3 separate regions of the Homo sapiens genome follow, and regions 1 and 2 are each linked to region 3. Evidence: fine-mapped expression QTL. A gene starts in region 3. Each other region holds a variant in brackets. All regions are shown on one strand. Distances are from middle to middle.

Evidence for each region.
Region 1: its variant is fine-mapped to the expression of COX17 in fibroblasts (GTEx, PIP 0.96).
Region 2: its variant is fine-mapped to the expression of COX17 in putamen (GTEx, PIP 0.90).

The regions. Positions count from the first base shown.
Region 1 is chr3:119,652,323-119,662,257 of GRCh38, forward strand. POPDC2 (popeye domain cAMP effector 2) reads right to left here and starts at 8,267. Exons shown (of 4, transcript NM_001369919.2): 1 at 7,611-8,267; 2 at 2,183-2,291. The coding sequence starts at 8,101. The variant T/C (reference allele first, on the strand shown) is at 5,033.
Region 2 is chr3:119,625,637-119,635,571 of GRCh38, forward strand. It overlaps PLA1A (phospholipase A1 member A), which reads left to right. Exons shown (of 11, transcript NM_015900.4): 10 at 3,065-3,229; 11 at 3,748-4,175. The coding sequence ends at 3,832. It also overlaps the pseudogene RPL10P7. Among named protein-coding and RNA genes, the nearest start is that of POPDC2, 30 kb to the right of the region's middle. The variant G/T (reference allele first, on the strand shown) is at 4,103.
Region 3 is chr3:119,672,451-119,682,385 of GRCh38, forward strand. It overlaps COX17 (cytochrome c oxidase copper chaperone COX17), which reads right to left and starts at 4,956. Exons shown (of 3, transcript NM_005694.2): 1 at 4,754-4,956; 2 at 2,695-2,783. The coding sequence starts at 4,860. The coding sequence ends at 2,699. RefSeq lists an enhancer at 5,135-5,394.

The DNA.
Region 1 (9,935 bases), 20 kb before region 3:
CTGTCACTGTGGATTGCTCTCAGTCAACAAAGACTATGTAATTGCAAAAGGCAAGGACAGGATGAACTCTAACTTAAGATAACACTTGACATTTGCAAAGAGGAAATGGGACTTTACACAGCCAATAGCAAATGTGTGGCTCTCATTACTCCCAAAGGAGGTACACGCTAAAAATATAAATGGGAGGAACATGACCATACCTACATTCCAGGCTGAGAGGCCATGTGAGGTTACAGCCCTTCCTCTTGAGCGTAACTTAGGGGAGGACACCCGGCTTACCCACCACCTGTTCCTCCGTGTCAGTGTCAGAAAGAGGCCTGGTCCAGCTGGCTCAGGTCCTGACTGAGCCCTCCTGGAGGTTCTCATGTGCCTGAGAGAGTTCCTGAAGAAGGTTTCTGGACTAGTTAGGGAGGGTGTGTGGACGGAGGTCAGGGTAGGAACATGATGGAAGTGGATCTGTGGCTGGTGACCCTGGCAGTGGGATCAGGACTGCCTCTCAGGCTCCATCATCACAGAGCCAAGTGTCAGGGTGGGGGCAGAAGCAGGCCCTGCCAGGTAGCACTGCCCGGTGTGTGTCTGTTCCGGGGTTGGCTCATATGTTGGCTTGAGGGACTCCCTGATAAAAGTAGTAGGAGACACATGGAATCCAGTGTTTCCAGGTCCAGCAAACTATCCAGGCAGGGGAGTCCTTAAAAGGGTGAGTGAGTGTGTGTGCGCGTGTGTGCATGCGTGTGCATGTGTGTGTGTGTATGTGTGTGTGTAAACTCTACTCTTCTGGTGACCTTCCCATTTTAATAAAGAACAGAAATGGTAGATCCAGGCAACTTGGCTTTGTCACTTTCTAGCTGAAGACCCTGGGCAAATTACTTGATGTTTTTGGGCCTTAGTTTCCTCAGTTGTTAAATGGAGTAATAATCATATTCAACCCATAGAGTTGTTATGAGAATCAATGAGGCAATATGATACGTAGTGCCTGCCACATGCTAGCCATTCAATAAGTGAGAGCTACAAAGAAAGTGACCAAAGCCTGAGGGATTGGCAGAGATAAGAAGAGTAGGGGCCAGGCAGCCAGGAACCTGCATTGGAGCATGTATGTGAATGCCCCATGGAGTCCTCTGGGACACCAGCTGCCCAGTGGCAAACCAGTTCAGCAATTCTTTTTTTTTTTTTTTTGAGACGGAGTCTCACTCTGTCGCCCAGGCTGGAGTGCAGTGGCGCAATCTCGGCTCACTGCAAGCTCCGCCTCCCGGGTTCACGCCATTCTCCTGCCTCAGCCTCCCAAGTAGTTGGGACTACAGGTGCCCGCCACCATGCCCGGCTAATTTTTTGTATTTTTAGTAGAGACGGGATTTCATCGTGTTAGCCAGGATGGTCTCGATCTCCTGACCTCAGGATCCACCCACCTCAGCCTCCCAAAGTGCTGGGATTACAGGCGTGAGCCACCGCGCCCGGCAAGCAATTCTTTACTGAACAGCTGCTGTGCTCCAGGTACTTTCCTTTAGAGTCTGGGAACAGAGAGGGAAAAGCCTAGATTTGTACTTCAGAGTTCACTGTGCAGAAGACAGAAAGGAGACCAGATTATTAGAACAGACAGCAAGATGTGCACCAGTTAGCATAAGTAAAAGGACTAGAACAGGCACACAGGAGTGCTAGGCTGTGGGGTGGAAGCTGGTGAGGCTGTGGGGTGGAAGCAGGCTTCACAGTGGAAGTGAGGTTCCGTGGTCTCATCTAGAAGGGGAAATGCATTTCAGAGGGGAGAGTAGGGGCCAAGGCATAGAGCTGCAAAACAATGTGGTGTGTTTAGGGAAGTACTAGTGGTTCAGCATGGCTAGTATGAGCAAAAAATATGAAGGAGGGAGAGCTGGAAATGCGACTAGAGAGCACTAAAAGGTTTAAGTTACCCTATAACAAGTGTGGGTTTTTATGTTGTGGCACTAGGGTCTTCCAGAAGAGTTTAAGCATACAAGTAACATGGTCTACCCAGGGGCCAGCATCTTCCTACCCTACCTCACCTATGGCTAGGAGCCCAGGAACTCTTTTCAGAGGAAGAGTGCCCCCGCCTGTAGCTTCACACTGGCAGGGGTGCGAAGGACAGATGTAAGAGGGGAAACATGGAGGCACGGATATTGCTGGGCTACAGTGGGATGGGGTGAGGCGGTGCTGCCACCAGGCTCCCTGTTACCTGGAACACCCCCTCCTCAGAAGGCTGTAGTGATTCCCACTCAGGAGAGTCCATGAACTGGTATGGAAAGATGTAGTGCAGAAACTGCCCATCCTGGCTCACACGAACCCTGGCAAGGGAAGAGAAGAGATCATGTGGGAAAAGGAAAATGGCTCTCCAAGCCACCTATGCTGAAGTTAGGTGTCGCTGATTAACATGAATCTTCCTGTAGAAATACTTTGCCTAAAGCATGGTAAAACCCAAAGCTAGACTAGCCAGCCTAATTACTGCATGCAAGTAGTTCAGAAAAGGAACCCATTGAGACTTCCAGAACCCTCATTTTTCCTCCTCCTTCTCCTTACTGGTGGTTCTCAATTTCAGGCTGCAGAGTAGAAGTCCCAGGGAAGCTTTTAAAAAAAAGCACCTAGGCTTGGGCCTTATCCCAGAGCAATTAAACAAGAATCTCTCTAGGTAGGAACTGGATATTATTAGTATTTACATCTCCCCAGTGATTCTAATGTGTAGCCAAGATAGAAACTACTGCTTAAGAACTCTGCTGCTGGCCCGGCGCAGTGGCTCACACCTGTAATCCCAGCACTTTGGGAGGCTGAGGCAGGTGGATCACCTAAGGTCAGGAGTTCGAGACCAGCCTGGCCAAGAGAGTGAAACCCCCATCTCTACTAAAAATACAAAAATTAGCCAGGTATGGTGGCGGGTGCCTGTAATCCCAGCTACTTGGGAGGCTGAGGCAAGAGAATCACTTGAACTCGGGGGTGGAGGTTGCAGTGAGCCGAGATCACACCACTGCACTCCAGCCTGGGCAAAAGAGCAAGATTCTGTCTCAAAAAAAGAGAAAAGAATGCTGCTGCCTATTTAAGTTTACATTTACATTAATTAAAATTAAATAAAATTAAAAATTCAGTTCCTTACCTAATTACAATATGGGTGTTCAATAGCCACATATGGCCTGTGACTACCATGTTGTACAACATAGATCTAGAACGTTTCTGTCATCACAGAAAGTTCTGTTGGATCCGCTGCTCCACAGATTCTCCTTTCTCCCTTCCCATTAGCTACATGAAGATTCATGCTTACATTTAACCACTTTGTAGACTTTGAAGGAAGTGGCAAGTCTACCATATGCCAGACTCTGCTAGACACTTTACCAGTGTTCTCTTATATAATGTTCACAACACCACAAGGTAGATTATTCTTTTCTGTATTTTATAGCTAAGGAAACTGGTGCTCAGAAGGGTTGAGTGGCGAGCTTAAGGCTACATAGCGATCAAGTGGCGGAACTAAAATTCTATGTTCTTAGCACAACACCATGTTGCCACCCTATTACTACAGCTTTGGGTAGATGGTAGTGGACTCTCCTAGCATGACCCTTTCCCGGACCTCTCTAACCGTAGGTGACAATAACAGCTTGTTTCTTTAGACAATGAGATCCCATGCACCCTATCCAGCTGATGGTCCTAGAGTGAACACCTGACTCAAGCTGAGCCAATCAAACTCCTTCCCTGGGAATTTGGAAATGGAATTGCGTGTAAATCATGCCTTGGATGGGGACAATTATCAGGCATTATTAACAAAACTAACACACTCCTCCCTGAAGGAACTAAAAAAAATTTTTTTTTATCACGTAACTCAGACTTTGAAAAGCATGGGTCCCAATTGGCTATAGAGAAAATAAACTTGAAATCACATAAAATGTCCTAGTAGGACATGTTCTTGTTTCTAGCACTACCTGAGGCTTAGGTGCATGTCTTTCCTTGAGTTTCATAAGAAATCCTTGTATTTTTTTAAATAAAGACCTTTTTTCCCCCTTCTGTTGGCTAGAGTGGGTTACTGTGGCTGCAGCCAGAAATCCGAATTATTTGCTTTAATTTTATGAATATTCTTAAGTCTTAAGTCTTAAGTCATTAACTGCTCTTGACTTGCCCATGACCACAGGCTTGGTTTCACAACTTAAGGGGTTAGGAGCCTTACTATTGCTGCTTGGTGCCTTTGTACCCTTGTGGCTGTACCTAGCCTAGTGCTCTGCCCCTGCAGGGTAAAAAGACTGCATTCCATGAGAACTTGTTAGAACTGATGGCATGTCATTGATGATGCCTGAGGACAGGGAGTGTATTTCAGATGTGAGGCCACATCTGGAAGAAGATTAGAATCCAGTATGGGCTTTATCCTTCCCCCAACCCGACCCCTGCCCAGAAAACTCAGAGTTTCATCTTTAACCTCTCTTCTAAAGTGAGTTATATCAGGCAATAGGGGTGCCTCTATTAGGCAAAGGGGGAAGATGAAAAAGATCTCTAAGGTACACCTTGTTCATTTGGGGGAGATATCCTTCCATTATTTCTGGAGGTTTATTGGCTAAACAAATATTTCTGGAGCATCTCTCATGTTTCTGGAGATCTGGGAATGCAGAGATGGGCACAATCTGGTCTTTGTCTTTGAGGATTTCACAATTTAGTGGAAGTCACAGGCACATAAATAACTGGCTGCAAGTCAATGTGATAGGTGCTATTGTGGAACAGTAACAGAGGAGAGAGAAAGATTGGTTCTCTTTGGGCAGCAGACCTCTCGAAGGAGATGACATTTGAGCTGAATTTTGAGGGATGCAAAGGGTATTGAGAAGCAGATAAAGATGAGAATGAACAAAGACCTGGGAAATCCAGTGTGGCAGTCTGTTCTCCAGTATCTGCTTTCTTCTCTTCCTTAATGGTGCTAGATTTTAACTGGACACATGACTGCAGAGAAAAAAATCAACATTTCTCTACTTCCCTGGCTGCTAGGCATAGGCAAGTGATAAGTCCTGGCCAATGGGATATCAGCACTCCTGAGCCTTGCTCTTAATGAATGCCTAGGTATACA[T/C]GCGTGTATACAAATTACCAAAGACCAGCACCAATTAAAAAAACAATTGCACCTATTATCTGACAACCTAAAGCTGGAAGACAGGAGCTTTATTCAAGACTCTGAATAAATATGTATGGAAGGGGGAAAAGAAGGAAAGAAGGAAGCAAGAAAGTAAGGATGAATAAATGAACAAAGGAAACCAAGGAACAAACTCACTTGTGTCACCATAAAAGGGGATCAAAACCTCACTGAAAAGCTTCCATAGCAAAGGAAGACAGCAGAAGAGAATGGCGCTGCTGCAGCATATGTCAGCTCCTTAGGCGAGGATTTCGGCCACCCAGGCAAGCCACCAAAGAGTGACAACCGTAGAGTGTAGATAATGTCTAATGATCTTCGTGGCTCGCTGAAGCCATTTAAATCGGAATGCTGTGCCCTTTATCATCTGTTTCTTCTTCCTTCTTGATCTACTGGAAGATGGATGATCTTCTCCTAAATGAATAGCTTAGATAGTTAGTTGCCTGCTCAGGGGGTTGTATATATGGAAGTTTGTGTTTTGAATTTTATATGAGAGAAACGTCTAAGTTAAGCGCTGCTTAACAGGGTGATAGACTTTGAGAAAGTCACTTTCCCTCTCTGAGTTTTGAAAGAGATTGGTTTCCTTTATTAAAACAAAACAAAAAGACTTCTGAGGTTTGAGTGAAGGACTCTAGAGAACAGTGTGCATGTGAGATGTGGAAGTCTGCACAAGAGTCCCCACTTCCTGGCACAAAGTTCTTGTCTGCTGCTTTGAGATGTTTGGTCCCTTACTGTAACCAGCCCAAGGTTCAGTGATTCTCCTTTAAAACTAGAGCCCAGTCATAGACTAGAAGCCTTTTCCTCTATGTCCAGCTCAGCAAAGCTGAGACAGGGTGACACTGAAAGATAACAAAACTCTTACTCCAAACCTTGAAAGGCAGGAAAAAAAAAAATCAAAATTGTCTAATTTCTGACTCAGCCTTTTGATGCTAAGTATACCAGGAAAAGCTACACCAAGGGCAAGCCCCCCTCTCCCCTTCACTGGGAAGTGATCTTATACAAGTTCACAGTAAATCTATCCTAACTGAACTATACAGTAACCATACATGCTTCCAGCAAATGGGCACCCTACACTGGAGGGAGCACTTCTGCTGCTCTCAATTTCCTCCTTTGAACAGACGAGCTATAACATCATGGGTCTCATGAATGAGCAAGTTCCCTAAATTGTCTTTAAGCATGGAACTATAGGTGCAAACATTTTCACAATAGTTATATGTATTTGTATTTACATCTATATCTGTTTACAAATAATCGCATTGGTTTACACTTTCAGTTCACCAATAAATGAAATGAAATGTACCCTCACAAAATGTCTCCCCTCCTAGCTCACTCTATCCAGGACCTCTGAGTTCAAACAAAATCAAAACATATATACATGATACTTCAGGTTCTATAAATGAATACACAAACACGTATTATTACTATTAGTGGTAGTTGTAGTACCATTAGCATCATTGTCAAACTTTTTTCTCCATTGTGTGGTTGGCAGTATTATCTGGATTTGCTTTTTTTTTTTTTTTTTCTTGGAATTGGAGCCTTCTAATTGCCATCTTACCTTTTCTATCACATTCTCCTGGTCTCAAGAAAGCTGGTGGAGTGGGGGTTGTGGGGCTCAAGAGCCACTAGGGCAGTATAAAAAAATCCACAATTGCCTACTAAGTGTGTAGCACAGAGCCCCGTGATGTTTTCTCAGAAGAAATCAATGCCCAACATTCACATCCAGGTTGACTGGGCATACACTGATCCTGACTAAGACCATTTCTGCCCATATCTGACTGTCAGCCTTCTCCAAAAGAGGCGGTGCTTCCACAAAAGCCTTGATGAGATAGGTGTATCACTTCTCTTCTCCCATTGTTGGGCCCTCAGATTTACAGTACTGTACTTGACTTCTTAGTCTTCAAGAACCTCAATAGAACAACTGGAAATGGAAAGGTGGGCAAGGGGTATTCACTCTCCCTACCTGGCTACATACAGCTACCCCAAACACAAGTGGGGCTGTTTGCTTGATGCCTTGGCAGGGAACAGGGGTTATGAGAACCACCCCGCTATCCCGACCTCCCATTTCTGGCATTGTTCCCTGAATACAGTTGGTGCTTAGCAAATGTTGAATTTGAGTAAGGAACAGATTAACCTTATTGAAATGTTAGTTTTTCAAAGCTTACAGAGATATTGCTGCAGCTTAGGCATGACACACTGATATGTGTGTGGTGATGGTAGAGGGGTTATTTAAGGCCCAGGCTCAAGACACACGCACTGCACACCTTCCAGCAGCAAGTGCACATACAATCATTCTTGCCAACCAAGATGCCTCATGAACTGGTTTCTTCTTGGAAAATGCCAAGAAAGAGGAAGCAACCCCACTCTTAGAAAAATCTATTTTGGTTTGTTTGACTTGTCACATCCTTCCCTCAATGGAAGGGGACACGAAATGGAAAGGGACATGAAATGGAAAGGGACACACTAGGAAATGAGAAGTGTGGGCTGGGGAAAGAAATTCTGGGCAATGGATAGAGTAGCTTACCGGCCAGAGAGCAGCAGGGACAGGCGGTTGATGGGTGTCTCACCCTCCACAGCATAGGTCTGTTCAGTGGCCAGAGTTAAGACCTGCTCCTCGCAGCAGTGAACAATCTCCTTGTATGTCTGTAGGGGCACCTGCAAGGGCAGGCACAGCGTCTTGTAGAGGAGGTCAAACTCCTCAGGGAGGGTGTCCTCACGCAGGCGGTATACCAGGTGTGCCAGCTGGAGCAGGCAGACCACAGCCAGCAGGAAGCTCCAAAGAACAATGTCCAGGCCACAGGCACTGAACCAGCCCCACAGCACGCAGCACAGGTAACCTGCACTCAGGAAGCCAAAAAGATAGAAGCATCCATACACCCCACTGCCCCCCATGAAGCCCAGGAGTAAGAGGCAGTTGGCTAGGTGGTAGACAGCCCCTTCCACATCCTGCTTCCACCTAATGCACGCTGAACCCTGCAAGAGAAGCTGGCCCACTCTGCTGCTGTTGGCGCTCATCTTTGGGGCCTCTCAAAGCCTCACTGGGCTCTAATACTGTCCTCACATAGGAAATTCAGAAAATGAATGAATCCATCCGCTCAGGGGTCTTCTCACCTCCGGCTTCTCACTACCGACTCCACCTTTCCTAGAAGGAATGCTTCCGGTGGCTTTGGGAAGGAATGATGGAACATAGTACACTTCATGGAGAATTTAAAAACCTCTTTCTCTCTCTCTCTCTCTCTCCCCCTCTCCCCCCCTCTCTCCTCCCCACCACCCCCGCTGTCTCAGCAAGGCTCTGGCTCTCCCTGCAGAGCTCTGGCAAGCTTCCTTGGTTCCATGTTTCTTGGGAGTCTTCAAATTTGGTTCTTAGCAGAAAAACCTAAATAGTCCCAAGGGAAAGTAGCACTACAGGACTGAAAAGTCCAGCAGCGTGGGATGATGCGGCCACATCCTGCTCTCTGTTTTTCCCAAGCAGAATGAGGAGAGCCAGCATGGGAGGCACATTTGTGTTCCATTTGGAATGTGTTCTCTCTTGGCACCGGAAGAAAGGGTGACCCCAGATGGATACCATGTTTGGAATTGGAATCCAAGAGGTACTGGCAGTGAGAAAAAACAGGCCAGGCACAGGCAGCCTGGCAGAGCACTTAACATACCTCCCAGAGGACAAGATAAGACCTCAGGGTCAGAGAGACAGACAAGGAGAGAGAAAGGAAAAGTGAGCACAGAATTCACCTGAACACCTCAGGCAGGAAACTGTCCCGAGCTCCCTTTGGGGAGAGCCAGACAGTGCTTCTGAGTGAGGACACATCAGAGTAGGAAAGTATGGGACTATTATCAGAAAAAATCCTAACAGTGAAAGCTGGAAAACCCCCTGAAGGCCTTTATTAAGTCACACTGCAAATATCATTATGTATTTATTTGACATCCATTTAACAAAAGTAGCTATGTAAAGTGGCTTTTTGAATTCTAAGCTGGCTTTCCCCTGCATATATCTGGATCTGGTAATAGTAAACAAATAATAATACATTGCCCAGATCATCATCCCACCCACTCCGGTGCTTCCAAATTATAATTCCCACCTATTAAACACCCATGAAGTGCCAAACCTAGATTAGGCATTTTATACACTTATAAGTTAGTTGTGACAACAATCCTTCAAAATAAATATTATTCTCCTTCTAGATCTGGAAGAAACTGAGGCTCAGAGAGGTAACAAGCTCCCACAGATGGTCTAAGTGGCAGAGCCAGGATTTGAACCCAAGTCTGTCAAACTTAATACTCTGTCCCAAGGGGTTTGCCAGTAAGTGGAAGTACAGTACTAGATCCATGACTCCCAACTCCACACTTCTATGAAGTCTGACAATTTTCAAGGAACTTCTGGTTGAACCTAGGAATCTACTTTGGGCTGCCAAGAGATAAAGCTGGAGTATGCAAACATTAGGCTAAGAAATGTTAGTTGGGCACAGTGGCTTACGCCTATAATCGCAGCACTTTGGGAGGCTGAGGCGGGTGGATCACCTGAGTGAGGCTGGAGTTCGAGACCAGCCTGGCCAACATGGTGGAAACCCTGTCTCTACTAAAAGTATAAAAATTAGCTGGGCGTGGTGGCGGGCACCTGTAGTCTCAGCTACTGGGGAGGCTGAGGCACAAGAATCTCTTGAACCTGGGAGTCAGAGGCTGTGGTGAGCCAAAATTGTGCCACTGCATTCTAGCCTGGGTGACAGAGCAAGATTCTGTCAAAAAAAAAAAAAAAAGGAAGGAGAAGAAAGAAGGAAAGAAGGAAGGAAGGAAGGAAGGAAGGAAGGAAAGAAAGAAAGAAAGAAAGAAAGAAAGAAAGAAAGAAAGAAAGAAA
Region 2 (9,935 bases), 47 kb before region 3:
GGAAAGGAGAGCAGTTCTGGGTCAGTTACCAGAATGGAATCTGAGGCACAGGGTCAGTCAGCAACGGAGTGCGAGCTGAGGGCCAGACTAGCGGCCAGGAGGGCTTGGTGCTGGGTGATTCCTGAAACTGGGGGTAGTCATTCCCTTCCTTTGTTGGGGCAGACTTGGGCTTGGGGGCTGGTGGGACTACGCTTGAAGTGAGAGGGCAAGGAACCCCAACTGTAGGGAGCCACAGCCTGCAGGGGATAGGAAGTCAGCAGCCATGGTGCATGCTTCTTTAAAAAGCAACCGGTTAGTTATTCACAAGCCAGCGGGAGACAGATTGTCAGATAATGTCACTGTCTCAGTGAGAGTCCGGTCAGGAAAACAGAGGAGGTCCAAGAGAAGGAATTTAGCACAGTGAACTCATTACAAGTGTGTTGGATGAGCTGGAAAACAGAGATGGGGACACAATGCAGAGATTAATCACAACAGGAGCCAATACAACCCTAGGCTAGAGGGACAAAGCAGGAGTGGAGTTGGCAAAGCTGGGTCCACAGGGAAGGCTGCTTGGCAGGAGCTGAACCCATGGGAAGTGCGGCCCCTCTGGAACCCCTGCCCAAAGCAGCCACCCACCTGAGCATGCTTCCACTGGGTTAGACCTCACTGGAACCTGTTGGTGGGGGAACCTGCAGGGGAATAGATCAGTCCAGAGCAAACAGGGAAATGACCAGTGCACACACACTTAAATGAGTGAGCAATGCCCTGAGAGTGACAGCATAGAAGACAGAGTCTGACTGAGTCCAAGGAAATGATGAGCAGGCTTTCCAGGAGCTACCCAGGCCAGGCTTAGAGAGAATGTGACACCTCTGGTGTGTCTGGAGCACAGATTTGGGGTTGTGGGGATGCTGTGAGGCTGGAGAGGCAAGTCAGAGCCAGACCCTGCCAGGCCTTGAAGGACAGGTTTTTATCCTGAGAGTAGTTTGGAGAGCCACTGGGAGTTTTAAACAGGACAGTGATGAGATCAGATGTGAGTTTGGAGATATTTCTCGGGTTGGGATGTTGGACATGAACTCTGCTGTGAGGCACTACAAGTTTCTGCTGGAAGGAGTGCATTTCACTCCCAAAACCGTGGCCACTAGCTGGTGTTCCTTCTGGCTCACCCAAAGTCACACAGCTAGGTACAGCCATCAGGATTCCAGCACAGGCCTGCAGGTGCCCACAGAGCCTTGCAGATTGTGGCTGGATATCAGTAAGCCAAGTACCTTTCATTAGACCCGCTCAAGGTTGTGCTACTTCTAGAAGGGTGTTTTCATCATCTTCTAGCCCATTGGTAGGTCCAGCAACACTGGCAGGAGTCATGAAAATGACCCACAACCCTGACTGCACGTTAGAATCACCTGGAGAGCTTTAAAAAATACTGACGCCAAGCCCCCCAACCCAGACCAATCACATCAGGGTCTCTGGGCATAGGCTCCACAGCTACATTTTAAAAGCTCCCCGAGTAATTCCAGTCAACATCCACAGATTAGCGCTTCCTCCTCCATGAAGAGGTTCACATAACTCTTTTGAAGAAGGCACCAGAACATGATTCACTTCTTGCAGATCAGAAATTGGGGGAAAAACGGGGAGGTTATGTGTGGTCTTTTTCCAAATTTCTATAGCTTTATGCGACGCTAAGATTTCCTTCTAATTGGAGAATTAACCTGGGCCAACTCCCCAAACCACTCACTTAAAAGATTTTTCATATTCCTTGTATTTTACAAACTCTTCAGTCTAAGCTTAAAGGAAACAATCTTATTTATTCCCTCTGTAATATTTCAAAAGACTTGTGAATTTAAAAAAAGAGGGAATGGTTTTTAAACAAAATTATACATGATCTTCCCTCAGAAGGAAAAAACAAGTGATATGACTAACACTGGACTAAAAAGAACACAAAGAGGCCCTATCACCACTCTGCGAAGGCCAGAAAGGAACAGGAAACCCAGTTGGCAAGGGTGGTTCCCCACACCACCCCTGCCCCCGCCGAGAGGAACGCAGCGCCCTCCTTCTTTCCTCTTTTTCAGAGTCCCACTTGGATTCCAGGGAGGATCACAAAGGGCCCCACAAGTCAAATTCCTTCCCTAGCTGGGTGGTGCAGCTCTGCTGGGCGCCCTCCTTGATCCCCCACTCACCACCCTCAGGATCTGCTGGCTGGGCTGTGCCTTGCACTCAGCGTGAAGACTTTCCTCATTGAATCTCACGATTTTTTGCTTTTGTCTCCAGTACCTAGTACCTAGGGGGTACCACAGCCCTTTTGGAAGCACCCTGCTAGGTTGATCACTTCATACTCCTCCCTCATCTTTGTCTCAGTCCAAAGTGGTGCCTGAATCTTTAAACATAAAGGGAATCTGGGGGGGCAAAGCCAAGAGGCTGGGTTAAGACAGAACTGGATGCCATTTTCACTCTGAGTCTCCTCAGCTGAAGTCAGTATGAACCAAACCCTACGGTTCAAGTTCATAGCAGCATGTAGGGAAGCTGGAACTTACACCTAGTTGCTATGTGACTCCACAGCCACCTTGCCAGCTTAGGTAACTTGTCCAAAGCCATACAGCTGGGAAGACAAACCTGGGTTCCACCCAACTCTGTCTGCGCTTCATGATGTTTTCTTGTTGCTGTTTCCACCCACACATTCATACTTAGCCTAAAACAGAAAAGTCCTTACACAGAATTCTTTGAAAAGGAATGTCCTAAAAGAGGGTTTCTACTTCTGGGTAATTAGATCTGAAGGTGAAGATCTCCTCCAGCTAGGAATCCAAGAACGAGGAACAGTTTTTCCAGATATGAAAATCCAGGAGCTACTATTTTGTTGCAGTGTCCACTTGTTTATTCTAAAAAATCAACAACTACTTTCTTGGTCATATTCAAAGCTGTAGGTGTGGGCAGAGGGGCTGGTGAAGGTGACACAAAGGACTGTGGTAAGGAGCTAACCCCTTGGTGCATGACAGCCAACCAGTGCCACCAGCAGAGCCCGATCGGAGCCAAAGGGGAAGTACAGGTGGTAAGGGCTACAGTCATTTACTTTCCCTTTACCCTTTTCTTGCAGACCTAAGCAGCAACGCTATGGGAAAGGAATCATAGCCCATGCCACCCCACAATGCCAGATAAACCAAGTGAAATTCAAGTTTCAGTCTTCCAACCGAGTTTGGAAAAAAGACCGGACTACCATTATTGGGAAGTTCTGCACTGCCCTTTTGCCTGTCAATGACAGGTAAGCCCCAGTATTCACCTCTGCACCAGATGCACTCACACATCAAAGACCAGTCTTGGCATTAGATGTGCTGCCTATTGAGGTTCAATCTCATCATAGTGATTATCATCTTAGAAGCAGAGATGACAGACACCCGGTGTTTTCCAGAACCTCCTGTGGGACCATCTTGGGTTGGGGAAATTCCACTGTATTTGTTCTGCATATTTGGTTTCTATGTAAGATTTTATTAGAACAAAGTTTTCTCATTGCATATTTTCTCCTCTGTGGCCTCCACTCCAACTGTGTCATGGGTCACATTCATGGGTGTGGATCCAGAATCCACATCCCCTTTCCCTTCCTCTAAAGGCATTTATGTCATTAACCTTACCACCCCTGGGCACTTGGACCACAGGAACTGGCTCTTAATTGTAGGTGATTGCAGATTTCTTTCACCAGACATCATGGGAATTCAAAAGCCACACAATGCCAAGCCCTGTCTCCTCACCAGCCACTGCTCTCTTATTGCTCTTCTCTTCCAGAGAAAAGATGGTCTGCTTACCTGAACCAGTGAACTTACAAGCAAGTGTGACTGTTTCCTGTGACCTGAAGATAGCCTGTGTGTAGTTTAACCTGGGCAGGACACATCTCCCTGCATTTTTTTTTTTTTTTTGAGAGAGAGGTGTGATGAGGGATGTGTGTGTGCAGCTTATTGTAGACCATTACTACTAAGGAGAAAAGCAAAGCTCTTTCTTATTTTCCTCATAATCAGCTACCCTGGAGGGGAGGGAGAACTCATTTTACAGAACTTGGTTTCCTTTGCCGATCTTATGTACATACCCATTTTAGCTTTCCCATGCATACTTAACTGCACTTGCTTTATCTCCTTGGGCATTC[G/T]TACTTAGGATTCAATAGAAACATGTACAGGGTAAACAATTTTTTAAAAATAAAACTTCATGGAGTATCTGAATCATTTAATTGTTTTACTTGAATGGAATTCTGTTACCTACAAAAAGTTGAGATTTATACTCTGTGGGATTGGAGAAAACAGTATTGCATTATCGGTATTAAAATAGCAACTAAAAGAAGTACTTGGAAAAAGAGAGGGGATGAAGGGTAGGGAGGAAGATGGCACCATTTACCAACCCTTACCATTACCTCCTCTGGATATCTGGAAGGTTTGAGGGATCAGAGAGATCTTGGGGAATACAGGTAGATTTCCTCTGGGTTAGTGTTTCCCAAACTTTGATCTTTGTAAATAACCTTGTATCAGCCGCAGCCCAGCAAAAAACAGATGGTGCGCTCAATCTGGGTTATTTGAGGAGAATTTAAGAAAAGGACAATTTGCCATAGTCTTTTGTGGGGCAACCACAGGGATAATGCAGTTCCCTGAAGCTACTGGCAGTAGAAGCTGCTACTACCCTACCTGTGAAGAGGCCAGAGAAGGAGGGGAAGCACCAGAAGGCTGCAGACCTGCAGTGCAGGGACACAGCCAGCCAGCAGCAACCCCGCAGGGAGGGAGCAGAAGCACAGGTTCTCTGACTTCACTCTTCTTCCTCTCCCATTTTCCTGCTAGTGCTCCCCATTAAGGACCCCCAACAGAAGCCAGAGGACAAATAACACATTGACATGGCCTAACCAGGCCCGGGGCATACAGCAGGACAGAGAAGGTTGGAGAGTGGATGGGAAGGGGGTGCGGAACTAACAGATATGGCACACGCCTTCACCACTTTCCCAAATCCAGGTTGCCTCGGATTCTTTTATTCTTTAAATTCACTTTTTAAAAAACATAAATAAATGAGCTTTAAAAGGAAACTGCTGACTTGCTGATTCACTCTCCACAATGAAGACAGGGAGAATGATGTAAGCAACAGGCTGCAATTACTTCATCTGGGCCAAGTCAGCCAGGGCACTGAGAGAGCTTCGGCCTTTGTCCAGGCCTTGGAAATGCAACCAAAAGGACAGGTGAGGCTCACGAAGATGTTTAACTGTCTGCATGATCACAGTCATGTCTAAAGAATACACATGTTCCCTGCTATGTAGGCTTGCAATTTTCTATTTTGCCTCAAACCAAAAACCCTCCTTTCCTTTTCCTTCTCTTTACTCCACCCAGGTTCCTCCCTAGAGACAGTCTTACCCTGAGCTGTATTACGCTGCACTTCCATTTGCCATCTTGGGAGACACTGCTTAGCACATACTTCTTCCTTAGTTTTCCCCACTGCTCGTTGCTTTTTTTTCCAAATGTGTATCACATTTCTGTGATGAAAATCATATTGTCGGCCGGGCGCGGTGGTTCACACTTGTAATCCCAGCACTTTGGGAGGCCAAGCTGGGTGGATCACTTGAGGTCAGGAGTTCAAGACCAGCCTGGCCAACATGATGAAACTCCATCTCTACTAAACATGCAAAAAAAAAAAAAAAATTAGCTGGAAATTAGTCAGTGTGGCGGCACATGCCTGTAATCCCAGCTACTCAGGAGGCTGAGGCACAAGAATTGCTTGAACCCAGGAGGCAGAGGTTGCAGTGAGCTGAGATCATGCCACTGTACTCCAGCCTAAGAGACACAGTGAGACCCCATCTCAAAAACAACAACAACAAGAAATCATGTTTTGTGATGTTGATGCTAACTGGTGTTAAACTCACTCAATCTGTTTTTCAGTGGCCTCAAATTCCATTCTGCTTTTGGCCATAGCCCTGGGTTTCTTTGCGAATATTTTCTTATTTTTAAACACTGTTAGACTTTCTCACATGTTACTTTGCTCCGTCAGAAATTTTGGATTATTACCTTACATGGAAAAACCAGTTTCTCTACTCATAAATTAATCCTAGAAACAAATACAATGAGAACATTATAATGTTTAACATTCCAACTAGATACTGTGGTCTGATGCAGGCTTAAGTCCTGGGCCTGTTTTTTCCTTTTTTTTTTTTTTTTCCTTTCATGTTCAGGAGGCAAAATTTTTTCTTTACTACAAAGGGGAAATTTGCAAGTATGTGAGAGATGTTAAAAATTTATCAGCACTGGCCAGGCACGGTGTTGTCCAGCACTTTGGGAGGCCAAGGCAGGCAGATCACCTGTGGTCTGGAGTTCAAGACAAGCCTGGCCAACATGGTGAAACCCTGTCTCTACTAAAAATACAAAACATTAGCCGAGCGTGGTGGCAGGCGCCTGTAATCCCAGCTACTCGGGAGGTTGAGGCAGGAGAATCGCTTGAACCCGGAGGGGTGGAGGTTGCAGTGAGCCGAGATCGAGCCACTGCACTCCAGCCTGGGAAACAAGAGCAAAACTCTGTCTCAAAAAAAAAAAATTATTAACACTGAATGGAAACATTTTTCTATATGTAATCACTGGATGGAAAGGATATAAAAAAATGCATAACTGTCTATGAGATGGAATGTTGTTTAATGCTGGGTCTATGTGGTACCTAAAATCATCCTGTCCAGGGGCACGTGGCCCACACTTTGGGAAACATGGCTTTAAGTAGATGGGATGTCTGTGGGGTCAGGGAAAGGGAGAGCTAACACGGAACTCTGCTCCATGGCAGAACAAAAGCAGAACTTGGGTCTCCCTTCCACACCCACTTTGCTCACTCTGCTGCAGTCTTTTCATGAACAGAGACTATTACAGAACTAATTAAATTCAACAGGCAGATTCACCACCAAGTGCAAGATACACTGCCGTAAGATACAGAACAATGTGACCTTGGAATAGGCACGCAACAAAAACATCCAACATTGCACAGCTTTTTACTATGTTCCAGGCACCATTCTGAGTGTTTCATATGTATTAACATATTTTATCCTCTCAGCAAGCCTATGAGATACATGCTATTATTATCCCACTTTATAGATAAAGAAATCAAGAGGCTGAGGAACCTTCAAGATCACAGGTCTAGTAAGTAAAGGAGCCAGGATTCAAATGCCAGCTGTCCGCCCCAGAGCCAGGTGATTAATCACCACTCTAACCAGACTCAGAAACATGACACAGAAGTAGCCCCTAAAGGTCCACAATGCAACCCTGTGGGACTGGATACATAATTTACAGGGTTCAGTGCAAAATAAAAATGCAGGCTCCTTATTTAAAAAGTTGAGAATTTCAAGATGGTGACAGCAGAGCATGAAACCAAGTGTGGGGCCTGAGTGGAGCCCTGTGCCCAGGTGTACAGGTCGCATGCCCAGGAAACTGGCCTTGCAGCCAGGTGAGCCAGCTGTCAATTCCCAGAGCCGGGCATTCCAGCCGAGCTTGTGTAGTGCAGCTGACTGTGAACCCAGACAAACCTCAGTTGGCTAAGGAAGAAAGTTGTGAAGGATGAAAAAAAGGTCATAGGGCCTTTGAGAGGGATGCTAGTGTTTCTTACAGAAAATATTCAGACCCAGCCAGGTGCGGTGGCTCACGCCTGTAATCCCAGTACTTTGGGAGACTGAGGCGGGTGGATCACCTGAGGTCTGGAGTTTGAGACCAGCCTGGCCAACATGGTGAAACCTTGTCTACTAAAAATACAAAAATTAGCCAGGCATGGTGGCGGGCACCTGTAATCCTAGCTACTTGGGAGGCTGAGGCAGGAGAATTGCTTGAACCTGGGAGGTGGAGGTTGCAGTGAGACAAGACTGTGCCATTGCACTCCAGCCTGGGCAACAAGAGCAAAACTCCGTCTCGAAGGAAAAAAAAAAAAAGAAAAGAAAAGAAAAAAAAAAGAAATGAAAATATTCAGACCCCAGGGGACATGCCTGTATTAACCATCACTAGATTTTCAGATGAATGTTGTTGAAGGTTCCTCTACACTAGAGGCTATGGGAGCTTGGTTCCCACTGCACAGCTTGGTGACAGGTAGGAGAGAGCCCAACTCCAGCAGCATTTTGGAATGCTGTCCCCAACATCTGGAGCACAAGATGTCAGAGAGAGACTGGGATGGGTTGATAAGGGAGAAGATGACTTCCTAGCCTCTTTCGAGGTCTGATGATCCACACTTTGAGAATAGACGTAGGAAAGACCTTCTACTCCTGTGTCCTACAGGTGTGAGATTCTCTAGCAACTGCAGAGTGGTTAACAGCAAAGAGGACATGCGTACCCACTTCTGAATAGCAGGGCTGGCTGCTTCAATAGAGCGAGAAAAAGGTGGGAGTAGAAGGACAGGGGAGAGGAGAGGAGATGGAAGCATGGATGGAGGTGACTGCAGTCAGATAAACAGTTGTTTGGCACACAAACCCAGCGTTCCATAAAGTCCTATGTGGACTCTGTGAGTTCACAATAGTTTCCCTTGCCAGCAGCTCACAAAACTGTGCCTTGATTACAAATCTCATGACAAATCAAGCCCTTGACCAACAGGGACTTTGTCTTGTCTGCTGTTGTACTCCAAGTCCCTAGCACACAGTAGGTTCTCGAATATTTGTTAGAAAATGAATAAATAAATGGTCCCAGGAAGTATTTTCACTTCTAAGGCTTAATTATTGGCAGAATTAACCACTGAAGCCATCTCAGTGTTGGCTTTTCTTTGCGAGTAGTTTTTCACTAATTTAATCTCTTCACTTGTTATAGATATATTCAGATTTTCTTTTTCTCTTGAATCTATTTCAGTAATTTGTACCTTTCTAAGAGCTGTCCATTTTATTTATCTAATTTGTTGGTACACAATTGTTTGCAGTATTCTCTTATAATTCTTTTTATTTCTATAAGGTCAGTAATGATGCCTCCTCTCTTATTCCTGATTTTAGTAATTTAAGTCTTCTCTCTTTTTTTCTTGGTAAGTCTAGATAAAGATTTGGCAATTTCATTGATCTTTTTGAGGAACCAACTTTGGTTTTCCAGTCTCTAGTGTGATAATTGCTACTCTAATCTTTATTGTCTTTCTCGATCAGATATTATTCTACATCATTTTTAAAAACAGCTAAAGCCACAAATCTGCCTTGACCCTTTTGTTTTTGCTTCTGCTCTGTCGATCTTCCTTGAGGCAGCAGATCTTTCATGACCTATTGCCCAAAAAGGATAGAGTCACAGGGTCACAGACAATTCTTGGAAAAATTTACATTGGTGAATATATCAAAATGATATTCTGCTACATATGCATAACTTATCTTCACTCTTGGACCACAAAGATCTATTTCAGAGACAAATTTGGAGTGGAATTTTCCTTAACATTATCCTCAATAGAGCCTAAAGTATAGAATACACTCATTTTCTCACTCATATCCTGAGACCTCAGTGGTCGTTTACCAGACGTTGGAATTCCTAAATGAATACCATTGCCTTAAAAATCATATTCCTCAGGTCAGAAGGCTAGAGTGCTCTAGTACAGGAGTCCTCAACCCCTGGGTGAGTGAACATTAAACCTGAGCTCCATCTCCTGTCAGGTCAGCTGTGGCACTGGATTCCAGGAGTGTGAACCCTATTGTGAACCGTGCATGCAAGGGATCCAGACTGTGCTCTCCTTATGAGAACCTAACTAACGCCTGATGATGTGAGGTGGAACAGTTTCATCCTGAAAATCATCCCCCTCACCACTGTCCCAGCACTGTACTGGTCTGTGGAAAAATTGTCTTCCACAAAACCAGTCCCTGGTGCCAAAAATGTTGGGGACCACTGCTGTAGTAGATTCCTAGTCAGTTTGAGGTGTCTTTTTTTTTTTCAGGTGGACAGAAAGTAGGATTTATTGTTGGGCCTTAGGAGGGGCAGCACAGTGGAAGCCCTCATGAGTGCAGGGCCCACCACTTGTCCAGAGGGCCACGACTGGGG
Region 3 (9,935 bases):
TAGCATTTCTTTTTATTTAATCACCCCTTTTTATCAAGGCAAGTTCAGCACAAGCCTACAGCTTACACAACTGACGAGGGAGTTAGATCATGAACAAGGAAACCATGTACAAATGTTAAGGTTGCATCTTTAAAAATAGTTAATAAAGTACACATACTTTTTAAGAACACACTCCCCTTCAAATTTACTTATTTTATAAAATAGTTCATTATGGGATTTCTTTAAATAACCATCTATTCTAAAAGCAACTTAAGTATATCATTTACACAACAGTAGATATACCATACTATATATAGAATCACAAAATGTATTATGGTTCTCTTTTTATAAATAATAAGTGAAATTCAGAGGAGTAATGTCTTGATGAAGCTAAATGTAGCTAAACTTAAAAACATGATAAACTAAACATCAGGAGAATAAAAACAAAGCCTCAGGACTTTCAGCCTAGACTGTTTTCCATTACACAGTAACTTCTTATCAGCTTGCGACAAGTTCCTTATCCCTCCTTTTTTATAGCTCAGTGAGGAAGACTGGCCATATGTGAAATTCCAAAGAGGCAGGAAAGAGGTGCAAGGGAAAGAAGCCAGGCTCTCTAGTACTAATATATTGGCATATGGCTTTGGCATTCTCTCTCAGCTGTTATTAAGTTAAAAGTGGTAGTGTGGTGTGGAAGTTAGGGTAGGGGCAAAAAGCAGAGGGAATCGGCATGGAGACTGAGGCTCCAGTTCTGATACTGCACAACCCACCTTGGGGGCCATTTCATAACTATAAGCTTTAATTTCCTTATTTATTCATTCATTTAACAATCCTCCATTAAGCACCTACTATGAGCCAGGCACTGTTATAGGTAGTGGGGATATGACAGTAAATGAAATAGAAAATTCCTACTTTCTCAGAGCTTACATTCTAGCTGCCGTGAAGCAACACAGGTAATTAAAAATATATGTATCATGCAGGTGACAGTGTATAGAATAGAGTAGCCACTAGCCACATGTAGCTATTAAAATTTTTACAAACTAAAAATTCAGTACCTCACTCTCACCAGCCACAATTCAAGTGCTCAACAGCCACATATGGCTAGTGGCTACCAGACTGGCAAGTGCAGATACAGAGCATTTCCATCTTCACAGAAAGGTCTTAGGACAGCACCATGATAGAGTGATGGGGAAGGGATGTAATTTACATGGGGTGTTGAGGGAAAGCCTCTCTAATAAGGAGACTTTTGAAAGAGACCTGAGTAAAGAGGGAGTGGGGTGAGGGGGTGAGCTAAGTTGATAACTGAAGAAAGAGCTTCCAAACAAAAGAGTATCATTTGTTTGTGGAATTGTTGGACACATACCACTTAAGGTCCCTTTCAGCACTTAAAATGGGTTAAGAGTTCCAAGTTCTTTTAAAAATGGCCTGAGGCCCACCGCCCTGTCTGGGATGTCAGGAGTGCCACTGCCCGGCTGCCCACTGTCTGGGAAGTGAGGAGTACCTCTGTCCGGCCACCCCGTCTGGGAAGTGAGGTGCCTCTCCGCCTGGCCACCACCCCATCTGGGAAGTGAGGTGCCCCTCTGCCCGGCTGCTGCCCCGTCTGGGAAGTGAGGAGCGCCTCTGCCCAGCTGCTGCCCCGTCTGGGATGTGAGGAGCGCCTCTGCCCAGCTGCCGCCCTGTCTGGGATGTGAGGAGCGCCTCTGCCTGGCCGCCCCACCGTCTGGGAAGTGTGGAGCGTCTCTGCCCAGCTGCCCACTGTCTGGGAAGTGAGGAGTGCCTCGGCCCGGCTTCTGCCCTGTCTGGGAAGTGAAGAGCACCACTGCCCGGCTGCCCCACGTCTGGGAAGTGAGGAGCACCTCTGCCCGGCCGCTGTGCAACCTTCCAAGTGTGAAGTGACAGCCTTGTGTGTGATCTTTTCTGTCTTCCCCAAGTTTGCATTTTTGACATTAAAGTTTACTTTTTAATTAAAAAAAAAATGGCCTGAGGCTTTAGTTTTATTCGAATAAAGCATGCTACAATTCCATTTTCATTTTTCAGAAAGCAATACTTCCGTGGGATACCCACTCCCTACTTAAAAGCATTTCTTGGCCAGGCATAGTGGCTCACACCTCTTAATCCCAGCACTTTGGGAGACCAAGGCAGGAGGATTGCCTGAGTCCAAGAGGTTGAGACCAGCCTGGGCAAGATGGTGAAACCCCATCTCTAAAAAACAACACAAAAAATTAGCCAGGCACGGTGGCCCACACCTGTAGTCCCAGTTACTTAGGAGGCTGAGGGGAGGATCACCTGAACCTCCCAGGTTGAGGCTGCAATGAGCTGTGATTGGGCCACTTCACCCCAGCCTGGGTAACAGAGTGAGACCCTGTCTCAAAAAAAAAAAAAAAAAAGCATTTACTGAAGTCCCACAATATTTATTAGAAACAAGAAAGAGAATATGTTTCTTTTAGTTCCCTCAGTCAATTTTCCTAAAGCCATGGGACCTAAAGGCTTTTGTCAAACCCTTTCTTAAAAGCTCAATTCTCCCCTTCCCCAATCCGCTAAATGACTGTCTTTACTGACATAATTTACTCCCTTCATTGGGAACTGAAAAATCATGGTTTTTTCAAATTGATACTTAAGCATTTTAGATTAACCAGGTGAACTACCTTTCAGAGAGAATGTAGCCCAATTGTTGCTAAATCTGTAAAGCAATACACAACTTTGAAGCAAGAAGCTTACCATTTCATATTTTAAATCCTAGGGCTCTCATGCATTCCTTGTGGGCCTCAATTAGATGTCCACAGTGTTCTTCTCCTTTCTCGATGATACTATAAAACAAAATGTACTTGTTATCTAAATATGCATTAAGCACATTATTAAGTATGCATGATAGTGATGGGGAGTGAGACAAAACACGGGTATAATGGAATGTAGCTGGAATTAAAACAAACGCTATTACCTCAAACAGCTTTGTTTTTATTTGATCTTATGATATGCCCATGCCTATGAAGACATTCCACAGATAAGTGATTTTGGGGGGGAAATCTGATAAGAAATAATCACGCATATTAAATATTGCCTCTAGTCAATATCCAAGGAGTAACACTGCTCTATAAAGAAATAAACTGAGTAAAATATTTATGCTAAATGAAGGGCACAGAGAACAGCTCAATTTTTTGCTTATTATCACAGAGAAATTAACTTTCTGATTTTGCCCTACATTCAAACACAACCAAATAAATCTACTTCTAATTACATCAAAAACATCTGGTAGCCAGGAGACCGAGATAAACACCCCCTCATGATGATCAAAGAATATTTTACTTGTAAAATTCACAAAGTAAAGACTAGGACTACACAGCTTTATTTCTAAGGCCTGAAAATGTGATTTTGCAAATAATCAAGTTAAGCCCAATTCAATTACAAGGAAAAACTGACTCCTGACTATGGATATTTGGGGAGAACCCACGTGGTCTGAGGCAATCGAGGCAAAGGGAATTTAACAAAGGGAATAGGTTCTCCTTCCATGGAAACTCTACCCATCCTTCAATAGCTCAAGAGCTGCCTGCAAATGGGAGATTGCCTGGGATAGTGAGATCATTGTGAAGATAATAGCTAGCATTCATTGATCATTTATTGCCATGTATACTGTGTTAGCCACTTGACATGGCTTGTATCATTAACCTTTACAATAATACTGGAGGGAGTTTCTTTTATTAGAGTCATTTTACAGACACATGAGGCTCAAGGTCACCAAGTTAGTGGATTAAGATTCAAACCTTGACTGTGGATCCCAGACTCTTAATCATGCTGTCATACCATTCAAGGTTCAACAGCACTTACTGTTACCACTGGAACAATTTGTTCAGACTAGTCTTTCAATCCTACCCGTATTATTTACAAAGTACTGAGGATTAATAAAAGCACTGAGCTCCTACACTCTTATTATCCCATTATACCACTAATGATTTCTTTCTTATATCTACTATCTGGGAAGACAAAAGGGGCCAGAGGAAGAGATGCACATTCACGTTATCTGAGGACGTCCTCTAATGAGATTTGCTCCACAAGAGAGGCTATATAAAATGAGAACAAATCTTTTGTGGATTGACAATCTAGATGAACTATTCTTAATACTTTGTCCCCTGCGTCGTAGACTGATTGATTTTCAACTTTTGGTTGTCTTAAAAGGGTTGAAGCGTAACTCTTCAGAACTGTAAGGAATACACTCTGTGTCCTACTGTCTCTAAATTTTGGGAGAAAGCCTTAGAAATTACCAGAAAACCTTTCCTGTTTGGTCTTAACAAATCTATCATAGCCCTTACCACGTCGTATACAAGTCACTGGTTTATGTCTCCATTAACTTTAAGCTCCTTTATATCAAGATGCATCTTTATCCATGTCTACATCTTCGGACCTAACGCAGTGCTTAACCCATAACAGATACTCAACACACATTTGTAGGAAGGAATGAGTGGTTGAAGCTTGCCGTTCTCCTCTCTCTCCATCGTTTCCCGGTACTAAGCTACGGGATAAGTCAACAGAGACCCGACCACGAAACCTACAAGGCCCAATAATTATCTCCAGAGCGCCGCAATGGGGCGGGGCGGGGCGGGGCGGGGGGGGGGGGCAGACAGGGAGGAGGAGTGGGGGAAGGGGGGAAGGAAGAGGGCAGAGGGCAGAAGGCAGAGGGCAGAGGGCAGAAGGCAGAGGGCAGAGGCCGTAGGGCAGAGGCACCGGAAGGCACAGGCCGCGGCCCGGGGCTCGTCGGCCGCGCCCTCTCCGGCTGCGCACTGACCACGCATCGCGCGCCTTCTTGGTCTCCGGGCAAGCGCAGCAGGGCTTCAGCGGCTTCTTCTCCTGAGACTCAGGCGGGGCAGGGTTTGAGTCAACCAGACCCGGCATCTTTCGCGCCAAAAGCAGCTATGAGCGGAGACAGCCAAATCTATGCCAGCCTCGGCAAACGCCGATTCGTCCGCAGTCACTTCCGGCAGTCGCTCTAAAAAGTACAGGAAGTCCTGCTTCTCTCTGACAGGTGGGGAATTTAAAAGGAGCGCGTGCGCAGAAGAGGCAAAATTCGGGCCTTAACGAGAGGGTGCCCCCTTCAGCGCATGCGCAAGGAGGCCCGCTGAACGCTCACCTGGACTGTGGTATTTACACTCTAGGACTCTAGGTCATAGAGTATTTGTTAAATCAACTTGGGGAGGGCTCACGAAGAAAGAAAGCAGCAAGACAACTGAGAGATCTCGTAACACCCGCTCCTCCCCACCCAATATCGAAACGGAAGCCCAAGATGGTGAAATGATTTGTTCAAGCCAAACAGGAGAAACCATAAGTGAAAGCCAGTTCCCTTGAATAACAGACTAGTTTCCCCCTTTTCTTTTATCCGCCTTCTTCCTGATCCCCACACACTGCAGGCCTTTCCTCTCTTTCATTGACCTATTTAAAAATGAATAGCAAGACATAGAACCACCGAGTCCACAACTATTGGGGGAATTTAAAAGGTCCTATAACCCCCTATACACCTCCTACGCACATTAAATCCTCAGCTAATTTGCATTTATAGCCCCCCTCCAACTGATCTGAATTCAGTATGAATTATTCAGTCATATATTCGTTAATATACTGATGAATAAAATTGAAAAATACCATTTCCATAGCATTTCCTCAGGTACATAGATAAACTGGTGCCCGTCTTATTCGCAATGAAATGGATATAATCATTGGATTTTTTTCCTGCAGAGTATTGTTGGAAACAGGCAATAAACTCTTTTTTATTTTATTTTATTTTATTTTTTGGAGATAGGGTCTTGCTCTGTCGCCCAGGCTGGAGTGAAGTGGCACGATCTTGGCTGACTGCAACCTCCACCTCCTGGGTTCAAGCAATTCTCCTGCCTCAGCCTCCTGAGTAGCTGGGATTACAGGTGTGCACCACCACGCCCGAGTAATTTTTGCATTTTTTAGTAGAGACGGGGTTTCGCCATGCTGGCCAGGCTGGTCTCGAACTCTGACCTCAGGTGATCCGCCCACATCAGCCTCCAAAAGTGCTAGGTTATAGGCATGAGCCACCGCGCCTGGCCAATAAAATCATTTTTTAAAGCAGGACTTGGAGGCACTGTTCAATAGCTGCAGGGTGATAGGTATTTTTAGGTACTTAAACTTTCAGCATCACCTAATCAAAGTTTGTTTCTATATTATAGATATTTAACTCAGGGAATTTACAGGCGTGTCTGTGAACTGGTGCTGTATAAGAGTAATTTCTATATGTGTATTTTTCAGGTTACTAAGACCATCCCCATTTTGTCATCTGAAAACTTTCAATAAGGATGATTTTTATTTCCTTCTGGATTGATATTTTTAATAATACAACATATTACCCTCATGTTCTAAATTCACCCTCATCCATTATTATCAATTCTTTCAACTAGGTGCTAACTCACATTGTTTAGAATCTTGCTAATCAAACAGTGCTTCCTGGATGAGCAATATCAACATCACTTGTAACCTTAATATACAATAAAATGTGGTTCAACAAATTATTGGGGAAAAGAAAATAGGCTAACCATCTGGAGAAAATTAAACACTACATTAAAAGGAAGAGCTCTAGATGCATTAAAGACCTAGATTGGAAAGATTGAAATATGAAATTAATAGCAAATTGTGGAGGAGAATATTTTAATACTGAGGGATGGGGGAATAACTTATGTTACATTTCAAAAGTACAAATTGCATGTCAAAAAAATTGAAGAAATTCATTACAGCAAAATAAAGGCTTGGGGTTTTACATACAATACTATAGACAAAGTTAACAAATAAATGATAGAATTGGGAGAAAATATTTGAAATCTACATATTTTTAAAAATTTTAAAAGTTAAAAAACTAATGTGTTCACTTAGAATATGTATTCAGTTGAAACAATGTCACCTTCAGTCGCAATATCTTCCATATATGTAGGGCTGTCGAGGTTGTGAACCATCATTTAATCTTCATGGCAGTCAAAATTATTATCTACATTTATAGTTGGGGAAAAATTGAAGTTCAGAGGTGTACATTTGTTCAAGGCTGCGTAACTTGAAAGTGGCAATCCTGAGTCTCATCATCTTCTCCCTGTACTCTGTCTACTATCCTACTTAATTTATCTAAATGCAAGGCAAGGCCTGGTGTAGTGGCTCACACCTGTAATCCCACACTTTGGGAGGCTAAGGCAGGCAGATCATCTGAGGTCAGAAGTTTGAGACCAGCCCAACCAACATGGTGAAAACCCATTTCTACTAAAAATACAAAAATTAGCCAGGAGTGGTAACCTGTAATTCCAGCTACTTGGGGGGATGAGGCATGAGAATCACCTGAACCCAGTGGGTGGCAATTTCAGTGAGCCGAGATTGTGCCACTGCACTCCAACTTGGGTGATGTAGTGAGACTGTCTCAAAAAAAATTAATTAATTAATGCAAAGCAAAATTTTTTTATTTTAAAACTAATCATTGATCTGTATTCACTTGTGCTATTGCATTTTTATGTATAGGAAATGAACAAGGAAGAAAAGGAAGATAAATATCTAACAGAGTTTAGAGAGCTAAGAGAATTGAGATAAACAGTAGGGACAGATAACAGACCCAAAGACTCAAACAGCTTTTCTGCAATTGAGAAGATTTTTTGGCCCACTGTCCCTCCTTGCTTCAGGGAAGAAAGATTACTGGTTGTGATAACACTGCCTGTGACTTCCTCAGGTTAGCTAATATAGGCAGGCCTCAGGCAAAGAAGTTGAGTAGCAGCCCTTTCTGCACCACACTTCTTTAACCTGCTGTGTTCCAGACATTTACAACCTTTGGTTTCCTTACTGAGTGCTGTAACCCTTAACACTCTTTCAACAACTGCTTCTTCAGGATGAAATATTCTCCTGACTTTGAAAAAAACAACCAGTGGCCTTTCCAAAGTGAAATATTTAGTCATTTATATCTAGCTACTAAACTATCCTCTTGCTTCAGAATGGTACAGCTAACCCACATATGTGGGTTACTTTTCCTTCTACCTTTTAATTTATATGAAGTAAGGTGGAGCGTGCTGGCTCACGCCTGTAATCCCAAGCACTTTGGGAGGCTGAGGTGGGCAGATCACTTGAGGTCAGGAGTTTGAGACCAGCCTGACCAACATGGTGAAACCCCGTTTCTACTAAAAATACAAAAATTAGCCAGTCGTGGTGGCAGGCGCCGGTAATCCCAACTACTCAGGAGGCTGAGGCAGGAGAATCCCTTGAACCAGGGAGGCGGAGGTTGCAGTGAGCCGAGATCACGTCACTGCACTCCAGCCTAGGCAACAGAGTGAGACTTTGTCTCAAAATAATAATAATAATAATTTATATAAAGTAAGCTGTAAGGTCAACTTTTGATTTTTATGTTATCACTATGCTTTTCTTCTTTCTCTATCATTTTTTCTTCTCCTACCCAGTCTAAATGCTTTTATACTCGTGGGATGGCCTGTTTCGGTATTAAAGGAAAGGTAGGAGTATATAACATAAGAAATTTATCCTTTCCCATTCTACCCCAACAAAAATCTTAATAGCCCACTTCCCCCAAGAAAAATAATTTTAGAGAGCTGTAATTAGAGTTTAAATTGACAGTAGGTGGCTGATGAATACCAAATAATAAAAGATAAAATTCACCCATCTGTCTTACAAAGGCAACTCTGAAATTAGTTTGATTCATACCTTTTATATCAAGCTCTTGCTCATCAATTTTGATTTTAACCAGAATTGGAGCTCTTTTAAACCTTTGGAATGCTTTGCTATTACTATAATTGCTAAATTAGCAGGCATTAAGACTTGAAGTGGTGACTGTAGTGGATTTTTTCATAGCACAGTGAATATGTTTATTGTATGTTATTGAATGGGGACATTAGCTACCAGTGGCACCAAACAGCAATTTTGTGGATGCATGACAGCCCTGGTAATGCCAGAAGCAACAACTGAGAAAGTACTTTCTAAAATCCTTCTATGATAAAGGTATTTTTAGCCATTTTTCAGGCCTAACTAATCCCAGGTGTGCCAGCTTTACCAAGTAAGGGTGAGTAGTTGTTGGTGGAGAAGGAGTGACACCATATGTTGAGAGATAAGAATTACAAGACTTAAATTCTCATTGGCCTAATGTACTATGTCTACTTTGTATAAACTAACTTACAAAAGTAAGTAAGGTAATTTTTGTCCTTATATCTGCCCCTGCAAAGGAAAAAATGCTTTCCAATTTCCACAGGTAAATATGTACTGTACATCGTTCTTTATAGCTGCAATTTTATTCAAATTGCCTGCCACAGTTTTATGAATGTTGGTTGTATTAGTCTGTTCTCATGCTGCTATAAAGAAATACCCAAGACTGGGTAATATAAAGGAAAGAGGTTTAATTGACTCACAGTTCTGCATTGCTAGGGAGGCTCCAGGAGACTTACAATCATGGTGGAAGGCAAATGAGAAGCAGGGACCTTCTTTACAAGATGGTAGGACGGAGTGAGTGCCAACAGGGGAAATGCCACTTATAAAACCATCAGATCATGTGAGACTCACTCACTATCACAAGAACAGCATGGGAGAAACTGCCCCCATGATCCAGTTACCTCCACCTGGTTCCACCCTTGACACATAGGGATTACAATTCAAGATGAGATTTTCAGTGGGGACACAGCCAAACCATATTATTGGTAGAAGCCTCCAAGCAGCTAGGTCACAGATGAAGGACAATTTATTACTTATAGCAATAGCAGCAGCAGAATATCAGCATTTTTATGCCAGTTCCCTGAGTTCCAAGTCCCACAGGGTGATGTGAAGAAAGCCAGATGATATCCACATATGCACTGGGTTGAATTACAGGAAAGGAACAGTGAGCTTAGGAAACTCAAATCTTTAGTTGTGGGCAGTAAAAATGTCTGACTTTTGCTCCCAAAGTAGACACTACCTTTGTCTTCCAAGGTTGTTTCCTACACAAAGGAACA